2 separate regions of the Homo sapiens genome follow, and region 1 is linked to region 2. A link means that fine-mapping ties the variant in region 2 to the expression of a gene that starts in the linked region. Tissue or cell type: whole blood. Region 2 holds a variant in brackets; the other region holds the start of a gene. All regions are shown on one strand. Distances are from middle to middle.

What was found. PIP is the estimated chance that this variant, and not a neighbour inherited with it, causes the effect. A credible set is the group of variants that fine-mapping cannot tell apart.
Region 1: it holds the start of CXCL6, and the variant in region 2 is the best candidate, but not a certain one, in a credible set for the expression of CXCL6 in whole blood (INTERVAL, PIP 0.62).

What each region holds. Positions count from the first base shown.
Region 1 is chr4:73,834,772-73,838,771 of GRCh38, reverse strand. It overlaps CXCL6 (C-X-C motif chemokine ligand 6), which reads right to left and starts at 2,094. Exons shown (of 4, transcript NM_002993.4): 1 at 1,913-2,094; 2 at 1,676-1,808; 3 at 1,486-1,569; 4 at 12-1,149. The coding sequence starts at 2,021. The coding sequence ends at 1,131. RefSeq lists a silencer at 1,826-2,120.
Region 2 is chr4:73,793,485-73,797,844 of GRCh38, reverse strand. No RefSeq gene overlaps it. Among named protein-coding and RNA genes, the nearest start is that of CXCL6, 41 kb to the left of the region's middle. The variant G/A (reference allele first, on the strand shown) is at 2,358.

The DNA of each region.
Region 1 (4,000 bases), 41 kb before region 2:
AACAACATCAGTGGTTTAGAAATCTTTTATTGTTTCTCCAAATGACAATACAAGTACCAAAAACCAACATGACACACAGGAAAAAATAAAAGTGCAATTTTAATATAGTGAATGTGATACATGTATAATTCCTCATAACAAAATGGTCAAAACCTTTAAAAGATCCACAATAGATATCTGAAAATCTTAGCAATGCTATATATATTTTGAGGACTAAATGATGAATTTATATTCAAATTGTTCAAATATATTTTCAAAACTTTCAGAGCACAGATCATTGTTAATTTTGCTTTTATTTAAAAAACCAAGAGAATACATTTCTATGTAAATTAGCAATCAGGAATTTATCTGTTTTTGGGCTTCTTCATCTATCTAAAGTGTATATTTAGTGACCAGAATTATAGTCATCCTATAGTGAAAAAATAGCATACAAAATCAAAGTTTAATGAGTAAATCATGACATTATGCCATACTAAGAAGACATCAAACGTCTAAAACCATAGGAAGAGAATATATTAGCCCTTACAGAACTTAAATTTTTAGAAATTCTGAATAAGGAAATATATTCTGCACAGATAACGGTATGACACACCCAGTGTTCTAATACAGTACAACTTAAATAGCATCCTAGGGTAAAGAGTAACATATTCCCCAAGAAACAGAACTAAAATATTTCCTATTTTATGAGAAGAGTGAGTAAGAACAACAGGATACCTCCCTCAACAGCACACTAATAAAACATTATTTCCATACGAAATCCACAGCCTTTTCGGTAAGACTTTAAGGAATGTATGATAGAAATACAATAGTTATCTTCAATTCAATATTCATTGAAAGACTAATAACCAGTGATTCTTTGCTCACAATATGGTCAATTGCCAAAGGGTTCAATAACTTATCAGGTAAAATAACAGTAAATAGTGGAAATACTATATTAGTACTTCATTAGCTGAGCTGTAAACTTCAGGGAGAAGCGTAGGCTTTCCCCCACACTCTTCAAAGTAGGGAATCCATGTAGAAAATGGAAAAAAACCAACCCTTCCTTCTTATTCTTACTGGGTCCAGGGATCTCCAGAAAACTGCTCCGCTGAAGACTGGGCAATTTTATGATGCATGGTCTTTTTTGTTACTCAGTTTTTCTTGTTTCCACTGTTGAGAAAAGAGTTATATTAGTATAACCAATTCCCACACTCTTGTATGCTACATTTGGTTTTCAAAAGCGTTTGGTGGGGGAAAAAAATCAATAAAAGCAAAGAGCAGACAAAAAATAGATGTCAGTAATGAGCTCTGTGTAATTGTTCAGGCATGTAAGATTGGTGATAAAGGTTTACCCAGAACATTCCAGAAAAAAAGTTTCCTTATTCTTCTTAACAACCTTATAATTCTAAGCATAGTCTAAATCCTACAGAGAGAATAAGGACATTGTGAAGTATATGCTTTCCATAGAAGATATTAAAACACCACAAAGATCAAAGGGACAAATACCTGTCCAAAATTTTCTGGATGACTTTCTTTAGAAAAGGGGCTTCCGGGTCCAGACAAACTTGCTTCCCGTTCTTCAGGGAGGCTCTGAAGTAAAGAAAAAGAGGATGCACCCATGAGCCACAAAGGTTGACGACCCAGGCTGGAGGACTTGCCTAAGTCACAGTGGACACAGCAACACAGGAGAACTTACACCACTTCCACCTTGGAGCACTGCGGGCCTGCGGGGAACACCTGCAGTTTACCAATCGTTTTGGGGTTTACTCTCAGCGTAACGCGTAAACAAGTGCAACGCAGCTCTGTCAGCACAGCAGAGACAGGACCAGCTGGGGAAGAAAGACATTTTTATAGGGCAGGTTGCTGGGAGAGTTCCCTGGAACGCAGCGGCCCCGCAGAGGCTGGGATGCACCCCAGTGCCAGGAGCTCTCACCGCTGGCGAGGGGCCCCGGCGGCGTCAGCAGGAGCAGCAGCGCGAGCAGCGCGCACAAGGAGCCCGAAGGACCCGGGACACGGGCCGCGCGGCTGGACGGGAGGCTCATAGTGGTCAAGAGAGGGTTCGCGGGTTCCTGAGCTGGGTGGAGGCGCGGAGACTGGAGGATACAGAGCACTTTGGTTTCCTCGTGCCTTCTGCACTCCCTTTATCTGCATTCATCCCTCCCGACTGGCAGGAAACTCAAGCTTTGGGATGCTGGGGAAATTCCCTGAACTCAGGGGGCAGTGTGGAAAGAAGGGGTTGGTGGAGGGGGGCGGGAGGATGGGAATTGGTGGGGTGGGTGGCTGGGAGGAGCTGCCTGCTCCCTTAAGGGGGAGGACATTTTAGCCCCGCCCCGCGGTGGAGGGAGCTGTGGCTCCAGCCAAAATAGAGCAGCGATTCAGCAGGGTCTCATCCCCTGGGCTTGAGGGGTTAGCGAGGCTGGCTTCTCTGAGGCACGCAGCTGTCTGGGAGATGCTCCTCCTCTCCAATGGCCAGGACAATTAGGCAGGAGAAGGAAATAAAGGGTATTCAATTAGGAAAAGAGGAAGTCAAATTGTCCCTATTTGCAAATTACATAATTGTATATCTAGAAAACCCCATGGTCTCAGCCCAAAATCTCCTTAAGCTGATAAGCAACTTCAGCAAAGTCTCAGGATACAAAATCAATGCACAAAAATCACAAGCATTCTTATACACCAATAACAAACAAACAGAGACATGGTCTCAGCCCAAAATCTCCTTAAGCTGATAAGCAACTTCAGCAAAGTCTCAGGATACAAAATCAATGCACAAAAATCACAAGCATTCTTATACACCAATAACAAACAAACAGAGAGCCAAATCATGAGTGAACTCCCATTCACAATTGCTTCAAAGAGAATAAAATACCTAGGAATCCAACTTACAAGGGACATGAAGGACCTCTTCAAGGAGAACTACAAACCACTGCTCAATGAAATAAAAGAGGATACAAACAAATGGAAGAATATTCCATGCTCATGGGTAGGAAAAATCAATATCGTGAATATGGCCATACTGCCCAAGGTAACTTATAGATTCAATACCATCCCCATCAAGCTACCAATGACTTTCTTCACAGAATTGGAAAAAACTACTTGAAAGTTCATATGGAACCAAAAAAGAGCCCGCATGGCCAAGTCAATCCTAAGCCAAAAGAACCAAGCTGGAGGCATCACGCTACCTGACTTCAAACTATACTACAAGGCTACAGTAACCAAAACAGCATGGTACTGGTACCAAAACAGAGATATAGATCAATGGAACAGAACAGAGCCCTCAGAAATAATGCCGCATATCTACAACTATCTGATCTTTGACAAACCTGAGAAAAACAAGCAATAGGGAAAGGATTCCCTATTTAATAAATGGTGCTGGGAAAACTGGCTAGCCATATGTAGAAAGCTGAAACTGGATCCCTTCCTTACACCTTATACAAAAATTAATTCAAGATGGATTAAAGACTTAAACGTTAGACCTGAAACCATAAAAACCCTAGAAGAAAACCTAGGCATTACCCATTCAGGACATAGGCATGGGCAAGGTCTTCATGTATAAAACACCAAAAGCAATGGCAACAAAAGCCAAAATTGACAAATGGGATCTAATTAAACTCAAGAGCTTCTGCACAGCAAAAGAAACTACCATCAGAGTGAACAGGCAACCTACAAAATGGGAGAAAATTTTCGCGACCTACTCATCTGACAAAGGGCTAATATCCAGAACCTACAATGAACTCAAACAAATTTACAACAAAAAAACAAACAACCCCATCAAAAAGTGGATGAAGGACATGAACAGACACTTCTCAAGACATTTATGCAGCCAAAAAACACATGAAACAATGCTCACCATCACTGGCCATCAGAGAAATGCAAATCAAAACCACAATGAGATACCATCTCACACCAGTTAGAATGGCAATCATTAAAAAGTCAGGAAACAACAGGTGCTGGAGAGGATGTGGAGAAATGGGAACACTTTTACACTGTTGGTGGGACTGTAAACTAGTTCAACCAGTGTGGA
Region 2 (4,360 bases):
GTATTGGTATATGCAGGACACTATGCATTTGTAAAAACTAACTCGTGGAATTTTATAGTGTAAAGGCAGAAGAAACAGTACATAAGATTGTTTTCTGGTCGGTAATGTTGATTACCATGGAGGTACAGGATAACAAATCTAAAACCACTATATATAGAATTGAACAATTAAGTAAAAAGGTAGCTGATAGTGGGAGCTAGGTTTCTCACTGTTCAAGTGAGTGGTTACATACAGAATAATTTATAGATATATGTACAAACTTTGGTTAGTATTCACACATATATTTCCTTGCATTGCCAGCTGAATATATCTAAAAGCAACAGTGCCCCAGTAGTAATGAATATATTTACTATCCAGAACTTGTTTTCTAATACCACTCCCCAGTAATAGGAACCAGGGATCCTTGAGAAAATGGTTGATTCTCAAACTATAGCATAAAACATACTACATAAGCCAGAAGTACCTTGTAGTTCCAGGAACCATGAGCCACAGCACTGGGTGGGTGTTCAAGGTTAACGTCAATTGTAATAAATCATATTGACATGATAAAGATGACATAATATCTTTGATGTGATGTAACGAGTATATGACTTCTTATCTCTATGGGTTTCTTCTCCAAACCCAAAAATTCTAGCCTAATTATGAGAAAAATATCAGATAAATCTTTTTTTTAACTTTAGGGAGAAAATTTTGTATTTTTAAAACTTGCATAAAAGTTATGCAAGTTTTGCCAGGAGCGGTGGCTCACGCCTATAATCCCAGCACTTTGGGAGGCAGAGGCGGGCGGATCACGAGGTCAGGAGATCGAGACCATCCTGGCTAACACAGTGAAACCCCGTTTCTACTAAAAATACAAAAAATTAGCTGGGCCTGGTGACGGGCGCCTGTAGTCCCAGCTACTCTGGAGGCTGAGGTAGGAGAATGGCCTGAACCCAGGAGGCGGAGCTTGCAGTGAGCGAAGATCGCGCCACTGCACTCCAGCCTGGGCGACAGAGCAAGACTCCGTCTCAAAAAAAAAAAAAAAAAAAAAAAAAGTTATGCAAGTTTTTTGAATTATACTTTAAGTTCTCAGATACATGTGCAGAACGTGCAGGTTTGTTACACAAGTATATACGTGCCATGGTGGTTTGCTGCACCCATCAACCCGTCATACACATTAGGTATTTTTCCTAATGCTAGCCCTCCCCTAGCTCCCCAACCCCTCGCAGGCCCTCGTGTGTGATGTTCTCCTCCCTGTGTCCATTTGTTCTCGTTGTTCAACTCCCCCTTATGAGTGAGAGCATGCGGTGTTTGGTATTCTGTTCCTGTGTTAGTTTGCTGACAATTATGGTTTCCAGCTTCGTCTATGTCCCTGCAAAGGACATGAACTCATCCTTTATATGGCTAAATAGTATTCCATGGTGTATATGTGCCACATTTTCTCTATCCAGTCTATAATTGATGGGCATTTTTGTTGGTTCCAAGTCTTTGCTATTGTGAATAGTGTTTCAATAAACATATGGGTGCGTGTGTATTTATAGTAGAACGATTTATAATTCTTTGGTTATATACCCAGCAATGGAATTGCTGGGTCAAATGGTATTTCTGGTTCTAGACCTTGAGGAATCACCACACTGTCTTCTGCAATGGTTGAACTAATTTACACTTCCACCAACATTGTAAAAGCAATCCTATTTCTCCACATCCTATCCAGCACTCGTTGTTTCCTGACTTTTTAATAATCACCATTCTAACTGGCATGAGTTGGTATCTCATTGTGGTTTTAATTTGTATTTCTCTAATGACCACTGATAATGAGCTTTTTTTTTCATATGTTTGTTGGCTGCATAAATGTCTTCTTTTGAGACGTGTCTGTTCATATCCTTCACTCACTTTTTGATGGGCTGTTTGTTTTTTTCTTGTAAGTTTGTTTAAGTTTTTGTAGCTTCTAGATATTAGCCCTTTATCAGATAGATAAATTGCAAAATTTTTCTCCCATACTGTAGGTTGCCCATTCACTCTGATGATAGTTTTTTTTGCTGTGCAGAAGCTCTTTAGTTTAATTAGATCCCATTTGTCAATTTTGGCTTTTGTTGCCATTGCTTTTGTTGTTTTAGTCATGAAGTTTTTGCCCACGCCTATGTCCTGAATGGTATTGCCTAGGTTTTCTTCAAGGGTTTTTATAGTTTTAGGTCTTGCATTTAAGTCTTTAATCCATCTTGAATTAATTTTTGTATAAGGTGTAAGGAAGGGGTCCAGTTTCAGTTTTCTGCCTATGGCTAGCCTGTTGTCCCAACACCATTTATTAAATAGGGAATCCTTTCCCCATTTCTTGTTTTTGTCAGGTTTGTCAAAGATCAGATGGTTGTAGATGTGTG[G/A]CATTATTTCTGAGGCCTCTGTTCTGTTCTATTGGTCTATATATATGTTTTGGTACCAGTACCATGCTGTTTTGGTTACTGTAGCCTTGTAATATAGTTTGAAGTCAGGTAATGTGACGCCTCCAGCTTTGTTCTTTTTGCTTAGGATTGTCATGGCTATACCGGTGCATTTTTGGTTCCATATGAAATTTAAAGTAGTTTTTTTTTTCTAATTCTGTACAGAAAGTCAATGGCAGCTTGATGGGGATAGCACTGAATCTATAAATTACTTTGGGCAATATGGCCATTTTCATGAGATTGATTCTTCCCATCCATGAGCATGGAATGTTTTTCCATTTTTTTGTCTTCTCTCTTATTTCCTTGAGCAGTGGTTTGTAATTCTTTTTGAAGAGGTCTTTTACAACCCTTGTAAGTTGTATACTTAGATATTTTATTCTCTTTTTAGCAATTGTGAATGGGCCTTCACTCATGATTTTGTTCTCTATTATTGGTGTGTAGGAATGCCTGTGATTTTTGCACATTGATTTTGTATCCTGATACTTTGCTGAAGTTGCTTATCAGATTAAGGAGATTTTGGGCAGAGACGATGGGGTTTTCTAAATGTACAAGCATGTCATCTGCAAACAGAGACAATTTGACTTCCTCTCTTCCTATTTGAATACCATTTATTTCTTTCTCTTGCCTGATTGCCCTGGCCAGAACTTCCAATACTATGTTGAATAGGAATGGTAAGAGAGGGCATCCTTGTCTTGTGTGGTTTTCAAAGGGAATGCTTACAGGTTTTGCCCATTAAGAATTATATTAGCTGTGGGTTTGTCATCTATAGCTCGTATTATTTTGAGATATGTTCCATCAATACCTAGTTTATTGAGAGATTTTAGCATGTAGTGGTGTAGAATTTTATCTAAGGCCTTTTCTGCATCTATTGAGATAATCATGTGGTTTTTGTCATTGGTTCTGTTTATGTGATGGATTATGTTTATTGATTTGAGTATGTTGAACCAGCCTTGCATCCCAGGAATGAAGCTGACTTGATCATGGTGGATAAGTTTTTTAATGTGCTGCTGGATTCACTTTGCCAGGATTTTATTGAGGATTTTTGCATCAATGTTCATCAAGAATGTTGGCCTGAAATTTTCTTTTCTTGTTGTCATTGTGTCGCTGCCAAGTTTTGGTATCGGGATGATCCTGGCCTCATAAGATGAGTTAGGGAGGAGTCCTTCAATTTCTATTGTTTGGATGTTTCAGAAGGAATGGTACCAGCTCCTCTTTGTACTTTTGGAAGAATTCAGCTGTGAATCTTTCTGGTTCTGGGCTTTTTTTGGTTGGTAGGCTATTAATTACTGCCTCAATTTCAGAACTTGTTATTGGTCTATTCAGGGATTTGACTTCTTCCTGGTTTAGTCTTCGGAGGGTGTAATTGTCCAGGAATTTATCCATTTCTTCTAGATTTTCTAGTCTATTTGCATAGAGGTGTTTATAGTAAGCTCTGATGGTAGTTTGTATTTCTGTGGAATCAGTGGTGATATCCCCTTTATCATTTTTTATTGTCTGTTTGATTCTTCTCTATTTTCTTCTTTATTAGTCTGGATAGCAATCTATCTATTTTTTTAATCTTTTCAAAAAACCAGCTCTTGGATTCGTTGATTTTTTGAAGGGTTTTTTGTGTCTCTATCTCCTTCAGTTCTGCTCTGATCTTAGTTATTTCTTGTCTTCTGCTAGCTTTTGAATTTGTTTGCTCTTGCTTCATTAGTTCTTTTGTGATATTAGGGTGTCAATTTTAGATCTTTTCTGCTTTCTCTTGTGGGCATTTAGTGCTATAAATTTCCATCTTAACACTACTTTAGCTGTATCCCAGAGAGTCTGGTACATTGTGTCTTTGTTCTAATTGGTTTCAAATAACTTCTTTATTTCTGCCTTAATTTCGTTATTTACCCAATAGTCACTCAGGAGCAGGTTGTTTAGTTTCCATGTAGTTGAGTGAGTTTCTTAATCCTGAGTTC